Regions from separate parts of the Homo sapiens genome. Here region 2 is linked to region 1. The links come from fine-mapping of genetic effects on gene expression. A gene starts in region 1. The other region holds a variant in brackets. All regions are shown on one strand. Distances are from middle to middle.

Region 1 (11,716 bases):
CTCTCTTAGGGTTGTTGGAAGTTAATTAAGCTAGTATGTGTGAAAGGGCCTGACTAGTACTGTAACAAATTGATACCGGGGTTCTCAATAAGTGAGGTTTTCCTTCTTAATGAAATAAAGTATAAGCACTGGCAAGGCTACAGCTGATCTACTTTCAGACCAGAAAGTGTTTCTTTTCTCCACTCAGTTTCACACAGTTTGATGCTTTTGTTCTCCATCTCCCCTCTCCCTCAATTGTTTTGGTACCAATAATTTCTTTTTTTCCTTCCCTCCTCACACCATCCTGTTTCTCACTACTAAAGAGACACAATGCTTCAACCAATTCTTCATCTGTTAACCGATAAAGTTAGCAGATTAAAGTTTAAGGTATTTTACCCTCTCTGGTAGTCAACCAATAATACTTGAAAACACAAAAGACTCAAGGATGCTGAAGAATGAATCTCAAATGGCCAAGTTTCAGCACCACCATGGATGGTGCATGAAATTTTTCTGAGGGAGGCTTCTTGATAACACCTCATATCCTTTTGTAAAGCAATTATTTATTGAACACCAACTGTATGCCAGACACTCTCTTTGACAAGCTAGCACTGTGTGGTATACCCTTTATTGAATAGGCTAGTCTTACTCTTTTACTTTTCCCAAACAACATTTAAAATGGAAATATATTCCTTAAAGAGTCTGCATTTCTCAGCCTCCTTCTGGATCTTTCCACATTTTGACAATCATCTCAAAGAGGAAAGCTGATAGATAAAGATACTAGTTATATATGACATCTGGGCTGACCTCTTAATTCTTAAGAAACAGAAATAATTTGCTATTTTCTGTTATTAATTGGCATACTAAAAGATGGTATCTTTTCGAATTTTTGATTTTTAATTACCACCTTACATAACTTGCAGGTACCTTTTTTGTTTTGTTCCTCCCAAAATGCTAGAATTACAGACAAGTGCCACTGTGCCCGGCCATTCCCTACTCTTCTGAAATGAAAACAGTCGAGTTGGGAAAGCCACTGCTGTCTCATTTTTTAAGATGTGAGTCTTATAAACCTATGAAGTAACAATATCAGATGACTGTGGGCAACCAGAAACTTCAAATACAACTTAGTAATACACATGATAGATTGTGTATCTTGTTGGTGAAGGGCAGGTGCATGATAACATCTAATGTCCCCCAAAGCAGAATTTTCTCAAAACAAGATGCATCTTTGAAAGTCCATCCAATTATTAGACATTTTTACAAAGGCCAAGAGCAACTTTCTTAAGACACATGCTAATTTTATTCTCCACGTTGTATGAAAACCCTGAATTATTATTGAGAACCCTGAATTACTGAGAACCCTGAATATTATTGAGCTATATCATATAAGTGAAAGTGTCCCTTCTGTCTGTATAATTAGAATGTCACCAGAAGATCAGTGTAGCTTATTTGACCAAAACCAATCTAAACAAACTCCTGCAAAACAAAAAATCAAAACAAATACTGTACCCTGTAATTATTGCAGGTAGAAATTGAAGAACTTTACCTGCTGTCTGTCTTCCTAGTGGTAATAATACTCAGGAATATGATCATTGATATCTTCAGCCATCCGCAAACACTTGTTACTTTTGGTGCTTAAATATCATTTTAAAAGTAAAAATATACTTATAAACTGTAGCAATTAAATAGTTAGAAGAAGCAGAGTTAATAATGTACTATAATATTTACTAGAGAAATACTGAAAACCAAAAAGTCACATTGATAGTAACTTTTCTTCCTTGAGCTCACTTCTAAAGAACTATAACAAACTAAATTACATTTAAACATACAATAGTCATTAACTAGGCAATCACTTACTGAGTCTACCATAGGCCAGACATTAAAAATTTTTCTTAGTCCAGCAACCTTGTATATCGTAAGGATCCACAAAATTAATGCAATGAGAAGGGAGAGGTGAAATTATAGACATTGAATTTTGAATTCAAATGTTAGCTTCTTTAAATGCTCCCGAGGTTAAAGATTTGTCCTCCTCCTCCCAACTGAATCTCAGTGTTGGAATGATACACAACATTTAAATGGAAACTATTGAAACTTTGGCAGATACCTAGAAGTATGGTTTTGAGTTGCTATTTTCTTGGATAATTTACTTACTGATTAAATTACCTACTGTGTATAAAGTGTGATGATAGGTGTGGCTCATCAGGTAAATTGTTTATTTTTTATGTATATATATATTTTTGAGATGGAGTCTTGCTCTGTTGCCCGGGTTGGAGTGCAGTGGTGCAGTCTTGGTGCACTGCAACCTCCGCCTTCCGGGTTCAAGCGATTCTCCTGCCTCAGCCTCCCGAGTAGCTGGGATTACAGGCACATGCCCAGCTAATTTTTGTATTTTTAGTAGAGATGCGGTTTTGCCATCTTGGCAAGGCTAGTCTTGAACTCCTGACCTCAGGTGATCTGCCTGCCTTGGTCTCCCAAAGCGAGGTAAATTGTTTATTAAACAGCAAATGAATAAATATAAAATTGCTTTTCAATTAAATGATTAGCTTGAAACTATAATTCAAGGGTGAACTTAAGGCAGAAAATGCGTCTTCATCACCTTTTTAAATTCCCAGGTCCTGAGTACCTAACACAGTAGGCATTTAATTTTTTTTTCATTGCTACAATAAGGAAATATAAGATCTAAAAATAGAAATTCTGAAGTAGTTAGGATAAGCTCCTATGGAAGCTACTCAGAAATCTTGATTAAATAAAGACCTTTATACAGTTTATAGAAATGACTAATTTCTAGTTTTTCCTTTTGGTCAGTGCTTGCTGTGGGGTAGAAATTAAGTCATTATATGTAATATATACATACAAAGTAGTATCTAAAACTAGACAAACCTGATATAGAAGCTTTTTTTTTTTTTTTTTTGAGATGGAGTCTCGCTCTGTCGCTAAGGCTAGAGTGCAGTGGTGCGATCTCGGCTCACTGCAACCTCTGCCTCCCAGGTTCAAGTGATTCTCCTATGTCTGCCTCCCCAGTAGCTGGAATTATAGGCACAGGTCACCACGCCTGGCTAATTTTTGTATTTTTAGTAGAGAAGGGGTTTCATGATGTTCGTCAGGCTGGTCTTGAACTCCTGACCTCAGGTGATCCACCCCTAATTGAAAATTACTTCACATTACCCCAGAAGAGAAAGCTATGCTCAAGTTGCGTACAATCAATTTTATCATAAAGATATGCTAAGTCTGCTGCACAGTTAAAAAGGACAATTCTTTAGAAGCTGAGATACTTTTAATCTAGATTCCGTCTTCCACTCATCACAAATCTCTGCTTTAAAAATGTTGATTTTCATGTATATTCAGCAATTCTTATTTGCAATTCTTCTGGGTAAGTCAGTATTTTCTTAAAACTAGTAACACTTATTAAAAGGCTTTTTCATACTGAGAAGACAAAAGGACTCAATGCCTCACATATGAGGCAAGTGAAAAGAACATTATTTTTATTAATCTATTTGAGTTTTGAATATATTGTTTTATTCATTTCAAAATCTGAACCTAGGCTGGGTGCGGTGGCTCATGCCTGTAATCCCAGCATTTTGGGAGGCCAAGATGGGCGGCTCACTTGAGGTCAGGAGTTCGAGACCAGGGTGGCCAACATGGTGAAAACCCCGTCTCTAGTAAAAGTAAAAAAAATTAGCCAGGCATGGTGGCCGGTGCCTGTAATCCCAGCTACCTGGGAGGCTGAGGCAGGAGAATTGCTTGAACCTGGGAGGTGGAGGGTGCAGTGAGCCGAGATCATGCCACTGTACTCCAGCCTGGGTGACAGAGCAAGACTCTGTCTCTAAAAACAACAACAAAAACGGAAGATAAAGAGCTTTGACAACTTAAGTTTAAAAAAGGAGACAGCTATGTATTTTATAGCTTAGCTTCTACCTAGTACATCTTCATAAAAAAAACTCATTGCCTTTAAAATTACCCCTTTTCAAACAAAATACATGTGTACTTGGAGATGCAAACTCACAGTAAGAACACAAGATCATTTTAACAAGCACTAAACTGAGGCTCAGGGAAGTTAAATAACAAGGCTATGGATACTTGGTCAGGTTCAGAAAAGTTTGCACCCCAAGTTCAAGGTAAAGAAAGGCTTCACTGTTCTGAAGTCCCTAGTATGGCAAAGTTACATGGCCATCAGAGAGCTAATTAAAAAAACTATGTTTAAATTATTTCCATGTTTCAGAGTTCTCCACCTCTAGACTCAGAATGCAGTTTAAAGATGTGACCTGAGACATTTTTGTTTTCCCTTGAGAGGAAATGCACAGTTGGAAGTTCACAAAAACACCTCTTCAAAAAACAGTAATACTGTTTTCATCTTTATAAAAAGCTTTCATCACAACTCTTTGGTGGCACTTCATGCCTTCAAGTACTCATTTTGGTGATCGTTGGCTCCCTTTTAGTCTGTCTCACAAGCCAGGTTATAAATGGTTTGAAATCAGGGGCCTTGTTTTTACTTTGAACCCATCGCAGAGCCTGGCACAGCGTGGCAGAGTGTGCGCCCAATAAATACTTGAGTGGAATTACACTGAAAAACAGGAAGAAGTAAAGCCATCTTCCATCTGCCAAAGACTGTGATGTTGCTGTATTGGTAATTTTCATTCTTAGAAAGCTTTAATGTGAATGAAATTATTCCTTACTGTGCATTTGAAAATTCCACTGAAAACAGTTTTAAAAATTAAGCATGCCCTCTTAGAGGCAGGGGGCACAGTTCTGGACAGATGAGAAAAGTGACAGTGACATCTCTGCATTGTTCAGAGAAGAAAGGTCAACAAAGAGTAGAAATAGAACACTCAACCCACCCTGCATTCTTTCCCTAGAACATTCTCTGTGTGTCCCTTATCATTTAAGCTTTTCATATGTAGTTTTCTTGAAACTGACCATATGCTCTTTTGGGGTGAGGGGAGGAGACGGAAGAAGGAGATGGAGAAGGTCTGAGATGATTTTTTTCGACAGCAGCGTCCACTTAGGCCCTTGGGGAGGCCGGGTCACGGGGCCTCCTTGCACCAGTGGTCTACAACGTCTTGCCTGCGGTTTACAACCGCTCTTTTAAAATAATTTCCCTTTGGGACGGCCCCCGGCTTCTTCCTGCCACCCCCATCCCCACCCCGCCCCCATCCTCATCCTTAGAGGCCCCAGGCAAACGCTTCGGATTCCCGGTTAGGTCTCAGAGTAAACAGCACGCTTGGAGGATTACAATCGACCCGAGGCCAATTCGACCCTTTCCCTTTGCCGCCCTCAATTGACCCTTGAAGCAGCCCCTGCTCTCCCTTCAAATGGAAAACCCACAGACACACACACAAACAAAAACCCCAAGTCTTCCTTTCGGTTGCTACCCGCAATGACGTTTCCCCCCTCGGGTCCCGCCCCTCCAGGGGGCTTGGAATTTTGGGATTGGCCGAGAGGCTGTGGCGACAAGGCCCGGATTGGACAGCATGGCGCTGACTGACAGCGGGGGCGGCCGCCGCGCCCTCCCTCTCTCCCCGGTGTGCAAATGTGTGTGTGCGGTGTTATGCCGGACAAGAGGGAGGTGACCGTGGCGGCGGCGGCGGCGGCTCTGTTTATTGTCCCTCTCGGTGTGTGTGTGTGAGGAAATCGGGGCTGCAGCGAGGCTAAGGCTGCCTTTGAAGCAGCGGCGGCGACCGGGACGACTACTCTGGCGACTCGAGTGGCTGGCCTTCGCGGAGTGTGAGAAGGACAAGGCACCTCTGCGTCCTCGCCACGTCCGAGCGCCTCGGGCTCCCCGGCCGCCCTCGCGGCTCGCACGCCCGGGCTTCAGCCCGGCCTGCAGCGGCGCCCGCGGGCGGGCGAGAAGGCAACGCCGCCGCTCGGCCGCCGCCGGTCGCTCCCTGCTTTCTCCTCAGCCGCCGCGCTAGGCCCGGGCGACGCGGACGCCGCGCCTCGAGTTTGAGGGCAGCCGGCGGCGCGGCCTCCTCAGCGGGCTCGGCTGGACGTCCGCTCCGGATCTTCGCGATGGGGCGCGGGGGTCGGCGCGGCTAGGAGTGCGGCGAGTGGAGCGGTGGGTGCGGAGCGGCGGGGCCCAGCGGCCCGCAGGGAGGCGGGAGCGGCGGCTGCGGCCTCAGGGCCTGTGAGCTGGAGGCACTCGCCATGGCCAAGTCGGGTGGCTGCGGCGCGGGAGCCGGCGTGGGCGGCGGCAACGGGGCACTGACCTGGGTGGTAAGTGGCTGGTCCCCGGGACGGGCGGCTGCATTGTTCCGGGCCCGCGGCGGGGGCGGAATTCCGAACGGGCGGGGGAGGGGAAAGGGAGGGAAATCCCGTCCCCCGAACGGGCGCTCCATAGGGGCCTGTGCTTGCAGAATCCTCCAGCCCGCTCCCCGCGCCTTTTCTTTCTTTCTTTCTCTGTACGTCTCTGGAAGTCCTGACTGCCAGAGCGTAATGTGTACTTGAAACTTTGGGGGGACAAAACCGCGAACGTAACATACAGCCCCCGCTTCCTCTCTTTTCTTTTTAACCAGACTCTTCCGGGGCAGCCGAACCTGAAATGGTGGGGATGGCGATAATGCAAGTGTGTCTGTGTGGGGCAGCATTTTCTCCAAATGTAGTTCAAGAAAACCCTGGGAAAAGGGGTGTGTGTGTGTGTGTATTCTAAATGCAGCTCTTTCTGGGGCTTTAATCTCAAAGAAGAATGCATTGGGATTTCTACAGCAACTTGCACTTCAATTTGGAAAGCCTCATTCAATGCGCTCAATTGAGAGCGCATTGGGGATGACTTTCACAGCAGTTAATACTGTAGGTCGTCCCTCTGTCAGGGTGAGATTATTAAAAGAAGTGCTTGTCTACGTCAGCATCGCAGGTGTAACGGGGTGAGGGCTGAATGGATGTCCTGGAGAGGTGACTGAAGTGCTTAGTCCTGAAGTTAAAGGATTTCGACGCTCAGTTCTTGCTGGGAAGTAGAAGTAACTGCAGCGGAAGGAGGAAGGGAGACTGGATTCCCACGACAGATCGATAATTCGCCGGCATTTCACTTGCTCAGCGTAGAGTTCAGACCAGGGTCATTTCCTATACAGAAAACCTAGGTATTTCGGAGAAAAGTAAAAAGTGTTACATTTTTCTGGACTTTTGACGGTCTGTTCCCCCGTCCCTGTTTTAAATACCTCAAGGGAGCTTTCATATAGGCATTTTTGTTACTTAGTTCGTTTTCTCTTTGTTTGGGTGAGGTTTGGGTGAGTTGAATAGCAATTTGTGCTATATTGACAACTGCTTCTTATAAAAAGGGTGCTACTGACAGCAGCAAAACATTTTAATCACTTATGTTTGCGTGCCAGGGTACATTGCAAAATAACTTGCCATGCTCTTATTGTTGAAATTCTTTGAATGTTGTATATTACTCCGATTATGTAGAATGAAAGTATGAAGGGACTAGGGCCAGGAGAGAAAATGTCAGATACTAAGTTAGTGGTCCATGTGGACTTGCAGTAGAGGGTATGTGAGAGGAAGAAGGAGGAGATGGACACATACATGCAAAATAATGACTTTCAGAATTAATGGCTTTTACCCCTGTCACTAAAATCAGACATCGGAAAATTGACTTAGACAGCCAAATGGTATTGTAAGTTCTCATTCACTATTTGGAAGTGTTGAGGCCTGATCGGTGTTTCCTCTGAAGACCTCTGGTTCTATAATGGTAAACATTTTGCTCCGTAGTGGATTGTTGGCTTTAACATTTGATAGCAGTACTTTAATTAACTGTTATATAATTTTGTAGATAATTAAATGACAATTTATTTCTTTCAAGCTCCATAGGAAACTCATTGCTAATTTAGCAAAACTTGGAGCATCTCATTCAAGATAGAAAAATCCATTTGAAACTGAAATTGACTTATTGATTAAAGGAATTTTCATTATAAAGCAGATTATGGAAAATATGGGAAATGCAGTAAAATAAAGAGAAGTGAAGATCACTTAGTGTTTTATTTATAGAGTATATCTTATGGAATTAGAAGTTTATTAAAAAGATAATCACTCCTGTAAGTCTTCTTTAAGAGTTGATGCTTACTCTAAGGTTATATGAGCATCTTTATGTCCATAATATACATCATTGATCATATAGACTGGTTTGATTTTATGGGAGGCAATATAGTGAGGTAGTTATGGGCTTTGACGTCAGGCTGATGTAGGTTCAGATACTGTCTCTCCAACACATTTAGTTGGACTTTTCCCAAGGAACCTAACCTTTCTAAGCCTGTTTTTTTATCTGTCAAATAAGGTTGCATTGAGAATGAAATGAGATAACGTGTGTAGCACAGTGCTGGGCTTAATGATGTTTGTTATTATTGGTGAACTTCAAGAAATGCACACTCAAATAATAGATTGCAGTTGCTTTTACATAAAATATCTTTTAGCTGGGGTAAAAGCAAATTAATTTTTCCTTTGCACGAGTTGGGGCTTTATTGCAGTGGTCATCTGTTTTGAGAAAGGTAACTTCGTCTGCTTTATTGAAGCTAGTGTTATGTTGCCACCTGCTTGTGGTAACAGAAAGAAATAAAAATAGAATTAGCCCCTGATTTCTTTCTTCTGGGTGAGGAGTTGTATGCCATGTGTTGCTGATATTAACTACTGTTGGGATGCATGCCAGCATGTGTTGTTAATGTCATTGCATGAAAATTTGCCTTTCAATATCTGAAACTACAAAGCCAAGTGGTTTTAGGACTGGCATTAACTTATTTTAATAATTCATTTGGTTTGTGTTTGATTTGTAGGAGTATCTCAACCAGAATTTTTTATAATTAAAAAAAGTGAAAAATATAAACATGGCAAAGCTATTTTGATTTAAAATGTATAGCAGTTACAAAGGCTTCTCTTAAGGCAGCAGGGTTTCTTGAATTAATTCTTTGTAGAGCTTTGATTAGTAGATAGTAATAGTCTGGTTCATTCTGTCAGTCTTGTATCATAAGTGATTGTAACAAAGACATTTGTGGAAATACTAGAATACAGTTATATGACTTAATCTTTTTCCCAACAATATTCTAACTTGGTAGATTAAAAAAAATTTTTAATGGAAAATGTTAAGCATCTCAAAAAGTGGTAACCAGAGTAGTATAACAAGCTTCCCTCTATTTAGCCTTAAGCTTCAATAATTATCAACCTGCCGGGTGCGGTGGCTCACGCCTGTAATCCCAGAACTTTGGGAGGCCAAGGCAGGCGGATCACCTGAGGTCAGGAGTTCATGACCAGCCTGACCAACATGGAGAAACCCCATCTCTACTAAAAATACAAAATTAGCTGGGGTGGTGGCGCATGCTTGTAATCCCAGCTACTCGGGAGGCTGAGGCAGGAGAATCGCTTGAACCTTGGAGGCGGAGGTTGCGGTGAGCCGAGATCACGCCATTGCACTCCAGCCTGGGCATCAAGAGTGAAACTCCGTCTCAAAAAAAAAAAAAAAAAAATCAACCTAAGACCACCCACTTTATCCCTTCTCATTCTTTTGAAGCAGAGCAAATCCTAGAATTTTATCACTTTCTCTGTAAATATTTCAGTATTTATCTCTAACAGTAAAGTCTCTTTTTGAAAAACTGTATAACCACAAATAACATTGTAGTTTTCTCAAAAGTCACATTTTTTGAAATATATAACATATTTTTGGAGTGTGAATATCTCTAATTAAACATGACTATGTATTTAAATATTGTTTAAAGATTTATTTTAAGAACCTTGCTTTAGTGGTTTACTGTTGCGAGTCTAAATTGCTGAGCCAGACTTTCATAAACTATGTGCCCTTTCCAATGAAATTTATTTATTATAGTCTCCATAGTTAGATTTATCTCTTCACTGTCCCCTACACAAGTTAGGCTTGTTTTTGTCACTTTGTCTTTACATATTTGCCTTCCATCTGGAATTACTTTTTCACTTCTCTTTACTAGTCTAAATCTTAACTGTTCTTCAGGGCTAGCTCAGAGCCTTGTCACATTATTATTTTCCAGTTGATACTCATCTTTTTCTTTCATTGAATGTTTGTTACTCTCATGAATCATAAAACAGAAGTCTTTATTTTTTATGTAACTTTCATGCATGATAACTTTGCCTTAATATTACAAATTTCTGAAGTTAGAGAGCATGTATTTTCCTTGTTTATGTCCTTCAGAGTGTTAAACAAAGAACTGGATACGTAATCCAGTCTCAGTTATTTAAAAATTGGATAATTGACATGCTGACTTCCTAAAAAGTCTTCTGTCATTAGTAGGACAAGAGTTTAAGTAGCAGTGTTTTTTAGATACATTCTCAAGTACATGATATAGCAGTATTTAGGCACGTTTTTAATAAACTTAATTTTTCTGAATCGAAGTATGTTCACCTGTAATCCCAGGTTTGTTGGTTAGGTGGTGGCAACAATTGCATTTTACTGAGTACACTTTAAAAAATAAACTTCTTGAATTTTTAAAAGTATTAACACGTATAGAACCCCATTTTAACGAAAAGTTGAAGTAGCTATAGTTATTCCTATTTGCAGAGAAGGAAACGGGTTTAGAGATTAGGTAACAAATTCTTAGGCACATGGTTAAGGCACAGGTGGAATTTAAACCAGACTCAGTGTTCTTAACATTTACACAGCCTTCAACTTTAAAAACATTGAAAGACAAAACAACTCATCTTTTATACTCTGATAAGACAGAATAAGGAGACATCTGGGATATACCTGTCTTTTTCTACTAACCTTTTACTTTCATACAAAAAGCTAAGGAGTATATTTCCTTTTCAGAATATGTGTACTTAGTATAGCATAATGCTAAGAGTATGGGCTGTGAAATCAGATCATCTAGTTTCATAATTCACCTTTGTCAAGTACTAGTTTTGTTAGCTTTGGGAAAACACTTATCCCAACCTTAGTTATCTCATCTGTACAAAGGGAATTATAACAGTGTCTATTTCATGGAGATACTATATAAGAATTAATTAAGATTATCGTAGTGCTTGGCACATAGTAGCTCCCAGATGGGTTCACACATACATTCTCCCTTCTTTTTTAATCCAGTGATAAGTATTTTCATTCCCTTTATTATAGAGAAAGCCTATTTTCATAGCAGAAGTCTAAGCATTTGTTACTGTCTTAAGTATCTCTTATCTCTTCCTTGCCCCTTTGTTTAGAAGGGTATTTCTGAAGGAGCATAGACAGGGGACAGTTTGTTGCTTTTTGCTTCATTAATGGTGGGTAGATAACATGGCCTCTCCATTTACATATAGGTGAAATATGGTTAGAATGAACATCATGGGATGGCAGCCTTGAGGGAGAAAAGAGAGAGGAGACATTATAAAAGGTTGGTGTTAAGTCTGAGGGGATTGTACAGAAGAAGGTAAAAGAAGGGGCTCGTTGCTAGGCTGCCAGCCCCCACTTCCACTCTTGTTGGCCTGGTGATGGTGAGCTTTCTGTGTTGATTATGTGAATGAGTGGCTCAGTTCTTTTTTAGTACCAACTGGCAAACCATCTCCTTTACCCTGTTTGTCAGCAATTCATTCTCCCTCAGAAAAACAAACTGGGTGCTTCTGCCAAATTGCTATATTTCAGGTGACAATTCTGTCCATTGAAGAATCTTTTGTTTTGTTTTGCAGAATGATCTTGGTGTATAGTCGTTCTGAAAAATAGGAAGTTTTACTGGAATGTTTTCCATTTTCTTCTGAAGACTGAGAAATGTTCTTGAAAAAGATCAAATCTTGGATTAGTATTAAATCTGTTTTTTTATTAGGCATTAGC
Region 2 (11,716 bases), 50 kb after region 1:
ATTTTTTCTGGTAAGGATGATTCCACCGTTGTTGGTCCTAAGCGTGCGTAGTGTTAAAAAATTCCTGTACCTTCTTTTACCCTTCAGTTGAATTTGTGCTTTGAATATTTAAATAGTATTTATATCTAAGTAGCGTAGTATGACTTATGTTAGGTAAGGCTTTTATAGACTATTATCTTTGTATTTATTTAAAATAAAAGGAGTAGAATATGACAGTGTTTTTAATTCTTGTAAATATGGTCAGTAAATTCATGTCAGCATCAGCTTTACAAATCTAAAAGTATGCATGTCACCTCTTGACAGTTCCAGTTGATGTCATCCTTTTCATACTCAGCCTTTATCTTGCCCTTTAGAGTATGAGTGGGTCAGCACCATTACTTCTTATGTCTTTTCCCACCACCGAGATCCCTGTGTATTGCCTTCTATACTGATTGGATAGGAGATGATAGAGATTGAGGTTTCCTTTTTAATTCCCCATGAGAGTTGAGAATTTTCAAGACTGTATGACTTGTAGTATGAGAACATGAGAGTGTGTCATGAAAAGAATCACTAATTTTTAAATCTTTATAGGTATATAAAGAACAGGTTTTAGAACCTATGCTAAATGGAACAGATAAAACACCAGCATTAATTTCTGATTATAAAGAATATCATACTGACACAACTGTGAAATTTGTGGTGAAAATGACTGAAGAGAAACTAGCACAAGCAGAAGCTGCTGGACTGCATAAAGTTTTTAAACTTCAAACTACTCTTACTTGTAATTCCATGGTAATTTATTAGATTTACTGTTAATTTAATCTTTCTTGCATGGTATAAGTCGGATTATTATAATTGGTTTCATGATGGGAGTGGCTATAGTAAGCCTGAAGGCATTTTTTTTTTTTTTTTTTTCCCATCCTGCAGATTTGCTGAAGATTCTAGGGGCACATTTCTTTCTTCTAGTATTGTCCACTACCCTTATTCTCAACTCTGTGTTTATGCATCTGGGCTTGAAAACACAGGATACACACATCTTCACACACATTGACTAAAAGTTATGAGAGTGGTTATTGCAGGGCCTTTGTGTACTTTATGGCCATCTCTATTAGCATTTTAACTGTAGAGTACTCATAACTCTAATCTGCTTTATTAAACTTGCACATTTATCTTTATTTATACAACTGGGGAGGAAGGTAGAAACTTTAAGTGTGTGATTCAAGTTCCATTCCAAATTAGCTTTTAGATCTAAAAAAGTAAAAAAAGTTCAGCAGTAGTACAGTGGCTGAGAAAAAGTGCCATAATCCGCTGAGAAAGGCTGATGGAAGAAAGAAAAAGGATAGAGAGGAGTTTGGGTGACTGGATTATAGCACAAGTAAATGTGAAAGCGAGAGAAAGGGGACAAATGCGTATACACAGAATATATGGGGGAGGAAAAACTTGAACATTTTTAAACTTAGCAATAGAATATGTATGTTTTCAGTTTGGGGAAAAATCATTTTTGTAGGTGGTTTTATGGTTACTTTAAGAGCCCTTTTTTTAAGGCCTATTTTTGTCTTTCAATATTATTCCTAAATACTTTTGTTGTGAGAATTGAATTTATTGGCTTGCAGTCACCAAAGAAATATTTACAGAAATGTGCTTAATAGTCTTAGTTCTGTTTAATGGTTTTTAGGGGTAGTCTGTGTTCACACACATGCATTATGGTTATATATTATGGTTATTTTAAGTATTGTAGATGTTATATAAGTTAAAATACCAGTACAGATCTATATGATCTGCAAAGTATATGTGTTTTGCTTAGGTACTTTTTGATCATATGGGATGTCTGAAGAAATATGAAACTGTGCAAGACATTCTGAAAGAATTCTTTGATTTACGATTAAGTTATTACGGTTTACGTAAGGAGTGGCTTGTGGGAATGTTGGGAGCAGAATCTACAAAGCTTAACAATCAAGCCCGTTTCATTTTAGAGAAGATACAAGGGAAAATTACTATAGGTAAGATACAACCTTTAAAAATTTGAACATTAGTTAAAATGGAAAAAAAACTTTATTAATAGAAGACATTTTTATCAGTAGAATATAAGCAAATACAAATTGAATCTCTTATCTTGATCCTAACTTTATTTTTCCCTCACATAGAGAATAGGTCAAAGAAAGATTTGATTCAAATGTTAGTCCAGAGAGGTTATGAATCTGACCCAGTGAAAGCCTGGAAAGAAGCACAAGAAAAGGTAATCATTTGCAGAAAAAGACATTCAGAGAAGCTTTTAAAAGCAACTTCCAAAACAAACAAAAATTCAACCCCTAAATTTTAAATTTAGTACTACTAAAGGTGCTGAGTTGTCTATTTAGAGACTAAAGTCTTCTGTTTATCCACAGAACAGATAAAGTACAGGAATTTATAGTACACACCCACCACAAAGCACTTGGCCAGTGTGACTCAACCAGAGCCTGGAGAAATGACTCCAGGTGTGAGAAGGTAGCTCAGTCTCCTTGACCTTTTTTCCTGAGTCTGCCATTAAAAGGTGTTGTGGTGGTGGTTTTTGTGAGGTACATGTATATTACCTGGGAATCAGACTGGTTGCACCCAGAATCAGCCTATGTTCACAGTATGGCATCCAGTCACCACTCACTTGATCTGGTTTTGGTTAATACTGGGAAGACAAGAGACAAAATGTTAATTATTATAGACAGTATTTATCAAACACCAAGCTCTGCCTCATGCTTAGATTTTTAGCCAGAGATTTAAACCCTGGAACTTCAGATTAAAAGTCTGATGTTTTATTAAGTAAGTTGCCCATTGCAGATCACAAAATAGTAATAATAGTTAAATGAATGGGATATTGAAGCTTTGAGAGTCCCCTCAATTAGCTTTTTGATGTTTTGTATAACTAAAAGAAAAATTTAAGCAACAGTACAACATTGTGATTGAGAACAGAAATTTATTACAGAAGAGGAAGAAAAGTTGAATGATTAATTTTTTGGGTATTAGATTATTTTGTGCATATATGATTCCATAACATTAACATCTTTAAAACATAGTTATAATTGTGTGACATAACTTGAACCTTTAAACTTCCCTGTACTTGAGTTCTCAATCATAATGTTTTTGTATTTTTTATCAAACTACATTGAAATATTGCTTTTGCTTACATTTTTCAGTTTGAAGTCAATAAAAGTCATATATTAAAGTGAGTAAAATTAGACTAAGTTATATAGAATAGCAATTACATATTAAGATAATAGGCTTATTCATTATTTGAAGAAAATTCGGTAGGACAAGATGGGCGCATTCAGAGTTAAGATGATTGAAGCCCTTTGTTTTCCTCTTAATGTGTTTTATTGAACCCCAAATTATGGTTTCTACAACACTTGCCTTTTGCCTTTCTGTATCACCGTTGGTTTAAACTATATGTTTTTTTTTAAAAAAAGTAACTAGTAAGCTGATGAATTTTTAATGCTTAGTCTTAAAAGATAAAGATTTCTACAGTGTCAGAATGTCCTTCTGGTGGAAGTAGAATTTATGGGTAAAGCCTAGCTTGATTTCAGTTATTGCATTACCACCATCAGAATTTTTTCAGCATCTTGGCCATGTGTACATTTTGGGGAGTTCAGGTAACAAAAGGAACTGCTCTTACAAGAGTGTCCTATTATACAGAGTTGGAGAAAAGAGAATTATAAAGTAGCTAATTAGAAGATTAAAGTTTTTTGTAAAGCATAATGGAATTTTGTCATTAGAACTTGCAAAGTTTATTTTTTTTTTTAATTTCTGGAAGTGTTCTTAGTCATATTTATGTTAACGGTGATAGATACACATATTCATAGAACACTTCTTAACAATACTTTGGGTGTAGTCAAAACCTAGATCTAATAGACTAGACCCACTAAATGTGGGTCTAAACAGGATTTTGTTGTATCCTAGTGATATTTTTATAGTTGTCTAACAACCTGAATACTCCATAGAAACAAGCTGTTTCATGAAGAATTTTTCAAAAGTGTAGAATTATTTATTGTAAGTTATCTAGGTACTTATTAATCATCTATCAACTCAACAATAGCATTCCGTATTTGGCTAATGTGGCTTAATCAAATTTATAGTTTTTGTTTATATAATGAAGCATCTTGCTTTGCAGTTTTAATTTTTATCTTACTTCTGAAGTACACGTAAACTGTACTTTGTGTATATACATTGTTTTGCTTACAAATTTTAATTATAAAGCTTTTTTTTTTTTTTTCCTCTTTTGGTTACCAAAAGTAAACTTTTTGCTTTATGGAGTGTCATGGTTAACTCAGTCATTTTAAATTAAACAACTTAGATAAAATTTTATTTAATGGCTATTGTTATTTTAAAAAATTTAAAGGTGATATCACCTAAAATAACTTTTATTAAATTCATTGTATTTTGAAATTTAATATTAGCACAAAATAATTTTTTTGTTGCAGCTGTTTCTATAGACAAGGGCCTGATGAATAAAATTTCAGCAAAACCCTGACGAAATTCTTACTCTAACTCACCAACTCTTAAATTCTTAAGTGGACTTTCTCTGAGTCCTGACATGAATATTCTGGCTTTAGAGAAGTTTTTATTAAGAATTCACCCTCAGCGAGTGAATGTACCTTAACATATTTATTATAACTGTAAAATAATTTTCATAACTGGTATTTATTTTGTATTTCAGATTGTTCATTCACTCACCAGTATAAAAATCTGACAAGATGCAGTGATAAAACATTAATTCTACTCTCTTAACTTTAAAATGTGGTATCCTCTCATTTTGTTACTGAGTACCTGAGGAAATCAGTTAATTTTTCATCAGATTCCTGGATAAATAGGGATAGTGTATACCATTCCTTCTGAAGATCTTATTGTGCGTCTTTAGAAAATTTTAAACTTTTTATAAGGAAATATATTTTTATAGGTAATCCAAAATAACCCCACCATCCTGAAGATGTAGCATTTATAGTGTAGCACTTGTAGAATTTTAAACTAATTATTCAATAAAATTCAACATTAATTTGATACTATACAAGACTTTAATATACAGTTTGTTATTTTTTACAGGCAGCAGAAGAGGATGAAACACAAAACCAGCATGATGATAGTTCCTCCGATTCAGGAACTCCTTCAGGCCCAGATTTTAATTATATTTTAAATATGTCTCTGTGGTCTCTTACTAAAGAAAAAGTTGAAGAACTGATTAAACAGAGAGA[T/C]GCAAAAGTATGAACTTTTGTGGGTTAAATAGTTTGAAACTATTTCAGTGTTATCTGTATCTTTTTCTTTTTCCAAAAATAAGTATTTTGATTTATCCTTCATATGTTTTAAAACTATTGAATGTTTAAACTGTACTTTTTTATTATAGGGGCGAGAGGTCAATGATCTTAAAAGAAAATCTCCTTCAGATCTTTGGAAAGAGGATTTAGCGGCATTTGTTGAAGAACTGGATGTAGGTTAAGTCTCTATTAAAATTTATTTGGAAAAGTCATGTTTATGAACAAGAATGAAATTCTTTTAAGTGATCTTAAAGTTTTCTTTAACTCTGTGAAGGTTAATATGTTTATAAGTTGAGTTAGGCTTAAGCTTCTAGTTATGTGAAGTTATAAAGAACTTCTTGTATGGAGGAATTTAAATGCTATGAAATTGAAATTTAGAATAAATTAAATCTGCTTTCAATTAGTTAAAAATTTTTAACTGAGTTTTAGATTAAATAATTGATTCAGTTTAATGTTTTCCTGGAAAGAGGTAAGGCTAATATGTGTGTATAATTGAATGTAAGTACTTTGATTTTAGGAGTAGAATGATAGTCTCTACATTTATAACAGACATTTCAATATTTGATTGTTATAACATAGTTTTTTCCAAGTAGAATTCTAATTTAAAAAATAAAAAAAATGTAGAGATATAAAAAGCACACCTTTTCTAAAATTGCCCAATTAAAATATTGGAATTAATGGTAGCATTATGAATACCTGATTTTTGAGTAGCAAAATGTAAAATACCATTTATTACTCATACTACTTTTTTTTTTTAAAGTTGCTTTGTTGATTTATTGTCTACATGCTCTACTTTTACTTCAGTGGTCTAAGTCAGAATTAGAACTCTTAAGAACAAGTGTGGTAAATTAGCTGCCTAAAAGAATTTAGAATTTTTTAGTGCTATTTTTCTAGGCTCCCTCAACGATCTTTCAAGTGCTGCAATGTGAGTCTTCCTTTTTTTGTGCTTTCCGTATATTGTTCATTAATTAGTTTTTTTGCACATTGTTTCCTGCTGAGTTATAATTTATTTAAAAATTATTCATTAAAAATGAAGCCATCATATATTAAAAGAAAAATTATTCCTAATATTATTGATATCCTGATATTGCTTTAAATTTGGTCACTAATATAGTGAAACACAGGAAACTTTTGTGGTTATGCCTGTACATTTCCTCACTATTGAAAAGTCGTCATTCAAAACAACCCTAGCAAAAAATACTCTTTCACTTTTAATTTATCATCTTATTTTATTATTTGACAATTAATGAAATAGGTCCAAACAACTTATTTAAATTCTGGATGTATTTATTTTTAACATTTAAAAAGATTTAGACTTAAATTTCATGTCTCTCTGTATCATTTAAAGTCTAATGATAACATTAATTGAATATCTATTGTACACTGGCACAGCCTTCTATGTAATGCTTAGAGTGACCCTCACCACAACTTCAAATGAATGAGGTTATCATTAACCTGTATTATACAGATAAGGATCCTGAAGCTTGGAGAGGTTAAGTCACTTTCTTAGGAATTATATCATTATAGAATTACTCATCTTCTCAGACACCCACTTTCCTCATCTATAAAATGGGGATCACAGGATTTTTTAAATGCCTAGCACATGGTGGATGCTCTATAAATTATCTGGCTTTTTTGTTTTTTTTTTTTGAGACATGGTCTTGCTCTGTCACCCAGGCTGGAGTGCAGTGGTACAATCATGGCTCATTGCAGCCTCAACCACTTGGGCTCAAGCAGTCCTCCTACCTTAGTCTCCTGAGTAGCTGGGACATGTGTGCCACCACATCTGGCTAATTTTTGCATTTTTGTGTAGAGATGAGGTTTTGTTATGTTGCCTAGGCTGGTGTCAAACTCCTGGGCTCAAGTGATCCACCTACCTCAGCCTCACAAAGTGCTGGGATTACAGGTGTGAGCCACTGCAACTGGCCTCTGTTATTTCCTGAGGATACATAACTAGTAAGTGGAAGTGCAGTTGAAATCCAGAACTATCTGATTTCAAAGCTTGGGTAATTTCTATTAAACTGTTGTGCTACAAAGATCTTTTAAAAAAATCTCTAAAGAAATGTCATTTTTTCCTTGTGCCTTTCAAAGCTTATTTTAAGGAATAATTCTGGTAAATGCAAAATCTAGGATATTAATCATGATTATATCCTAATTTATCATTACATAGACCTGCCTGAGTTCAATCTAATTATATTGGCACTTTTAACTTCTCATACTTTCTGACTTTAATTTACATTTAGGAGGTTTTTTTTCATATTTTCTATTACGACTAAAGCAATAGAAAAAAATAACTTCATACTTATTAGCAGAACTGCCTTTGTATATGATTTGCTAGGATTTTGATGATACTAGGTTATCAGAGGTCTTGATTCCATAATATATCACGGGATCCAAGAATTGGCAGAGACTTCTCAGGTCATTTAGTCACTATTGCCCCCTCGTATTACAAATGGGAAACTAGTTAGATGAATTGGGATTACAATCCAGGTCTTCTGATTTAGAATTCTTTATTTTTTTTCCATTATTTAATCTTGAATTAGATAAGTTAAAAGGAAAGCTTTATTCTTTACTGAGTGAATAACATTTGTTTCAGTATTTTATGAAGTAGTGATTATCTTTTCTAAGAAGTTGTTTATGTTCCTTCTGCCTTATGATTATACTTTAGAAAGTGGAATCTCAAGAACGAGAAGATGTTCTGGCTGGAATGTCTGGAAAAGCAATTAAAGGTAAAGTTGGCAAACCTAAGGTGAAGAAACTCCAGTTGGAAGAGACAATGCCCTCACCTTATGGCAGAAGAATAATTCCTGAAATTACAGCTATGAAGGCAGATGCCAGCAAAAAGTTGCTGAAGAAGAAGAAGGTATGACATACCTCTTGTCATTGATAGACTCATTTCTATAATGAAATATATGTATAATTTAAAAAATTTTAATGCGTGTTTAAATCATGCTTTGTTTTATTCAAAATATATTTCAATGGTAATAGGAAATCCTTCTATGACAGCAGTTGATCTATAGAAGGAAAACATATTGGTAAAGGATCACATATTGTAAAGAGCTACTTAATTCAGCTTTTAAAATGAGAAATAGAAACACTCCACTCAGCTGCCTTCTAAGTTAAAATCTTGGAAGCCGGCCGGGCACGGTGGCTCACGCCTGTAATCCCAGCACTTTGGGAGGCTGAGGCGGGCGGATCATGAGGTCAGGAGGTCAAGACCATCCTGGCAAACATGGTGAAACCCCGTCTCTACTAAAAAATACAAAAAATTAGCTGGGCGTGGTGGTGGGCGCCTGTATCACAGCTACTTGGGAGGCTGAGGCAGGAGAATGGTGCGAACCCGGGAGGCGGAGCTTGCAGTGAGCCGAGATTGTGCCACTGCACTCCAGCCTGGTTGACAAGAGTGAGACTCCATCTCAAAAAAAAATAAATAAATAAAAATAAAAATCTTGGAAGCCAAAACAAAACAAAACAAAAACCTCCAAAAACCCAACCATAAGTATATCAACTTTAAAGTATAAACTTTAGTGCTACATCATAATCCATTAGAGAAGACTTAGAGTGGGAAAGGGTCTGTTTGGCTTACAAAGTACTCTGTCATCTTTTACTATTTACTTGTGTTTGTCCTTAAACTACCAAGCACATCCTGTGTCATTGGCACTGATAGGTGCTATTGAGGATTAAAAAAAAAAATGGCGTTGACCTAACCTCAAGCAGGATTGACCAGAGTTAGCCGGAAGAAGGAAACATCAGAAAAAATGTTCAGAGCTGAGGAAACAGGGTGCATGTTGGTCTTAGAGAGGCTAATGTTTTTGGACAGGTTGATTTTTACAATCCAGAAAGTATACGTTTAGATGTGTCCAACAAGTAGGTGGGAATATAGCCTCATTCTTACTAGAGCTTGGAAAATGAGCCTAAAGAGCTAGAGTTAGAGATTGGAGAGTTCTCTGTGCAGAGCTAATATTTGAAGCGTAGGTGCATTTTGACACCAGAGTAGCCTTTCTCTTCTGTTCTGATAAACTCAGGTCTCTACTACTTTCCTCTTACTTGGCTCCCCACGGCACACAGGTTCATTTACCCAGATACTCTTGCCTGTCTCCCTCGGAAGATGGTTTCTTTTCAGTTGGCGTTTGTCAGATTCATTTCTCAGCATTCTTTTCTCTACCTTATATGGTCCCCTCAAGTAACCTTATCTATGCCCAGAGCTTATTCCATTCATACTGATGGCCCCTAAATCTGTGTTCCTAAGCTATAATGCTTTCAGGAGTGCCAAGCTCATAGCCACTTGAATGCTTGAAGCCCATCAAACTCAGCATGTCTGAAACTGGATTCATTATCCTGATTTCAAAATCTGTTCTTTGCCTTATCCCAGTTAATGACACTATCAGCCATCAATGATATAAGCCAAAAACCTGGGAGTTTTGTCATTTAATCAGTAACTAAGTCCTATTGACTGCCTACTAAGTAATTCCAAAATCCACCCCCTTATCTTGGTCCCCATTTGACATTGCCTTAGAATTTTGTGTTTTCTCTGAGATACTTTAAAGTGGTCCTCTTAACTCTCTGTTTCTAGTCATTTAATCATGATTTCTCCCCTTTTCTACTTCATTCCTTTAAGTTCTATATTTTACTACTAGAATGAAAATTCTAAAAAGTCAGTCTGATTGTTAGGCTTAAAAATCTTCAGTGACTCCCCACTGACTATGCACAAATTCTTGGTATACAGTGTTAGCACCTGTATGCCTCTGTGTGTTTCTTCTCCTGGCTACTTTGTTCTCACTTTTCCTTGAGTTCTAGCAGACTATTACATTTAAAAACCTAATTCTTTAAACATTTAATTCCTGTTAGATGGCTTTGTGCCTTCTGCCTGGGATGCCCTTCCCTCCTTAATTCCCACCTGGCAAACCTATGTGTTTCCTTTAGAACTCAGTCAGAAAAGGTACTTCTCCATGGAGACTTTTTTGACCCTGCCTTGAGCAGAGTTTCTCACTTCTCCCCTTGGGCCATGGCTGTACCAGCCTCTATATTTGTTATTTGTATTGTAATGACTCATCCTTGTTGTGTGCCTCTGTGTTTTTTGTTTTTGTTTTTTTACCCCATGGTCTTAGGGTTGGGGTCTACCTTACAGTGCCTAGCAGTGCAAGACACATGTTACTTATTTTCCTTCAATAATTTGAAGATTTTTTTTTTTTTTGAGACAGAGTTTCGCTTTTGTTTCCCAGGCCAGAGGCTCACCGCAATCTCCGCCTCTCAGATTCAAGCAATTCTCCTGCCTCAGCCTCCTGAGTAGCTGGGGTTACAGGATTTTTTAATGGTATATAAAGGCCTGCCTGAGCTATAGAAACTTATTTTGCAGGTACCTTTTAGCTAGTGGTCTGGAAATCCCTCTGATAATCAAAAGCTGCCTTCTTATTTTTTATGGTTGCTTCTAAGTAGCTGTCATTTCACTGAATGTACTGGAAAATTAAGAGTTACATGCAATATTATTTACTATAGATAAGTGAAGTAAAACATGGTCTGATCAAAGTCAGCTGTTAGGACCTCATCAGAATCACTGTTTTTAAATTTACCTGATTTGAAGGCGCTATCTGTTGATTGAAACTATCTCTAAAATATGTGATGTTTTTATTTTTACTCGTGGCTTGATTTTCTTTTTATTATGTAGGGTGATCTTGATACTGCAGCAGTAAAAGTGGAATTTGATGAAGAATTCAGTGGAGCACCAGTAGAAGGTGCAGGAGAAGAGGCATTGACTCCATCAGTTCCTATAAATAAAGGTCCCAAACCTAAGAGGGAGAAGAAGGAGCCTGGTGAGAAATGATTATAGTTTTGCATGTGTGTGAGAGAAAAAATATTTGTATAGAGTATTACTAGATTCTTTTGATTGTGCTCTTTTTCTGGTAGTTGAAATAATGCCTTCAATTTTCATAAACGTTTATTTTGTAATGAACTTTTCATTATAACAATTTTATTTTTACTAATGACATTTCTATAAATATGGATACATACCTTATTGCTATTCTTTTGCTTTAGGTACCAGAGTGAGAAAAACACCTACATCATCTGGTAAACCTAGTGCAAAGAAAGTGAAGAAACGGAATCCTTGGTCAGATGATGAATCCAAGTCAGAAAGTGATTTGGAAGAAACAGAACCTGTGGTTATTCCAAGAGATTCTTTGCTTAGGAGAGCAGCAGGTATTGTAACACATTTAATATTACTGTATATTATAGTTTAACCTATACGTTGGTATTGTTAGTATTATCAGTGTTGTTTAAGTACTAAGCCATTAGTATTTCAGAAGTTAAAGTTAGGAAGAAGGAAAAAATTGCCTTATAGAACAGTCTTTCTAGCAAAGTTGGACATAAATTTCTCTAAAGTGAATCATGTTTCTTTCCTGATTTTTATTATAAAGTTTGGTTTATATTCCTTCCACAGTTTTAAGATGTTTGGGAAAAAATGT

Evidence for each region.
Region 2: its variant is fine-mapped to the expression of TOP2B in whole blood (TOPMed, PIP above 0.99).

What each region holds. Positions count from the first base shown.
Region 1 is chr3:25,658,699-25,670,414 of GRCh38, reverse strand. It overlaps TOP2B (DNA topoisomerase II beta), which reads left to right and starts at 5,508. Exons shown (of 36, transcript NM_001330700.2): 1 at 5,508-6,186. The coding sequence starts at 6,118. MIR4442 (microRNA 4442) reads left to right here and starts at 5,476; the gene lies at 5,476-5,542. RefSeq lists enhancers at 5,208-5,771, 6,729-6,858 and silencers at 5,939-6,298, 6,253-6,441.
Region 2 is chr3:25,608,917-25,620,632 of GRCh38, reverse strand. It overlaps TOP2B (DNA topoisomerase II beta), which reads left to right. Exons shown (of 36, transcript NM_001330700.2): 23 at 571-771; 24 at 1,784-1,979; 25 at 2,124-2,215; 26 at 5,047-5,202; 27 at 5,345-5,428; 28 at 7,924-8,118; 29 at 10,921-11,065; 30 at 11,289-11,450. Among named protein-coding and RNA genes, the nearest start is that of TOP2B, 50 kb to the left of the region's middle. The variant T/C (reference allele first, on the strand shown) is at 5,196.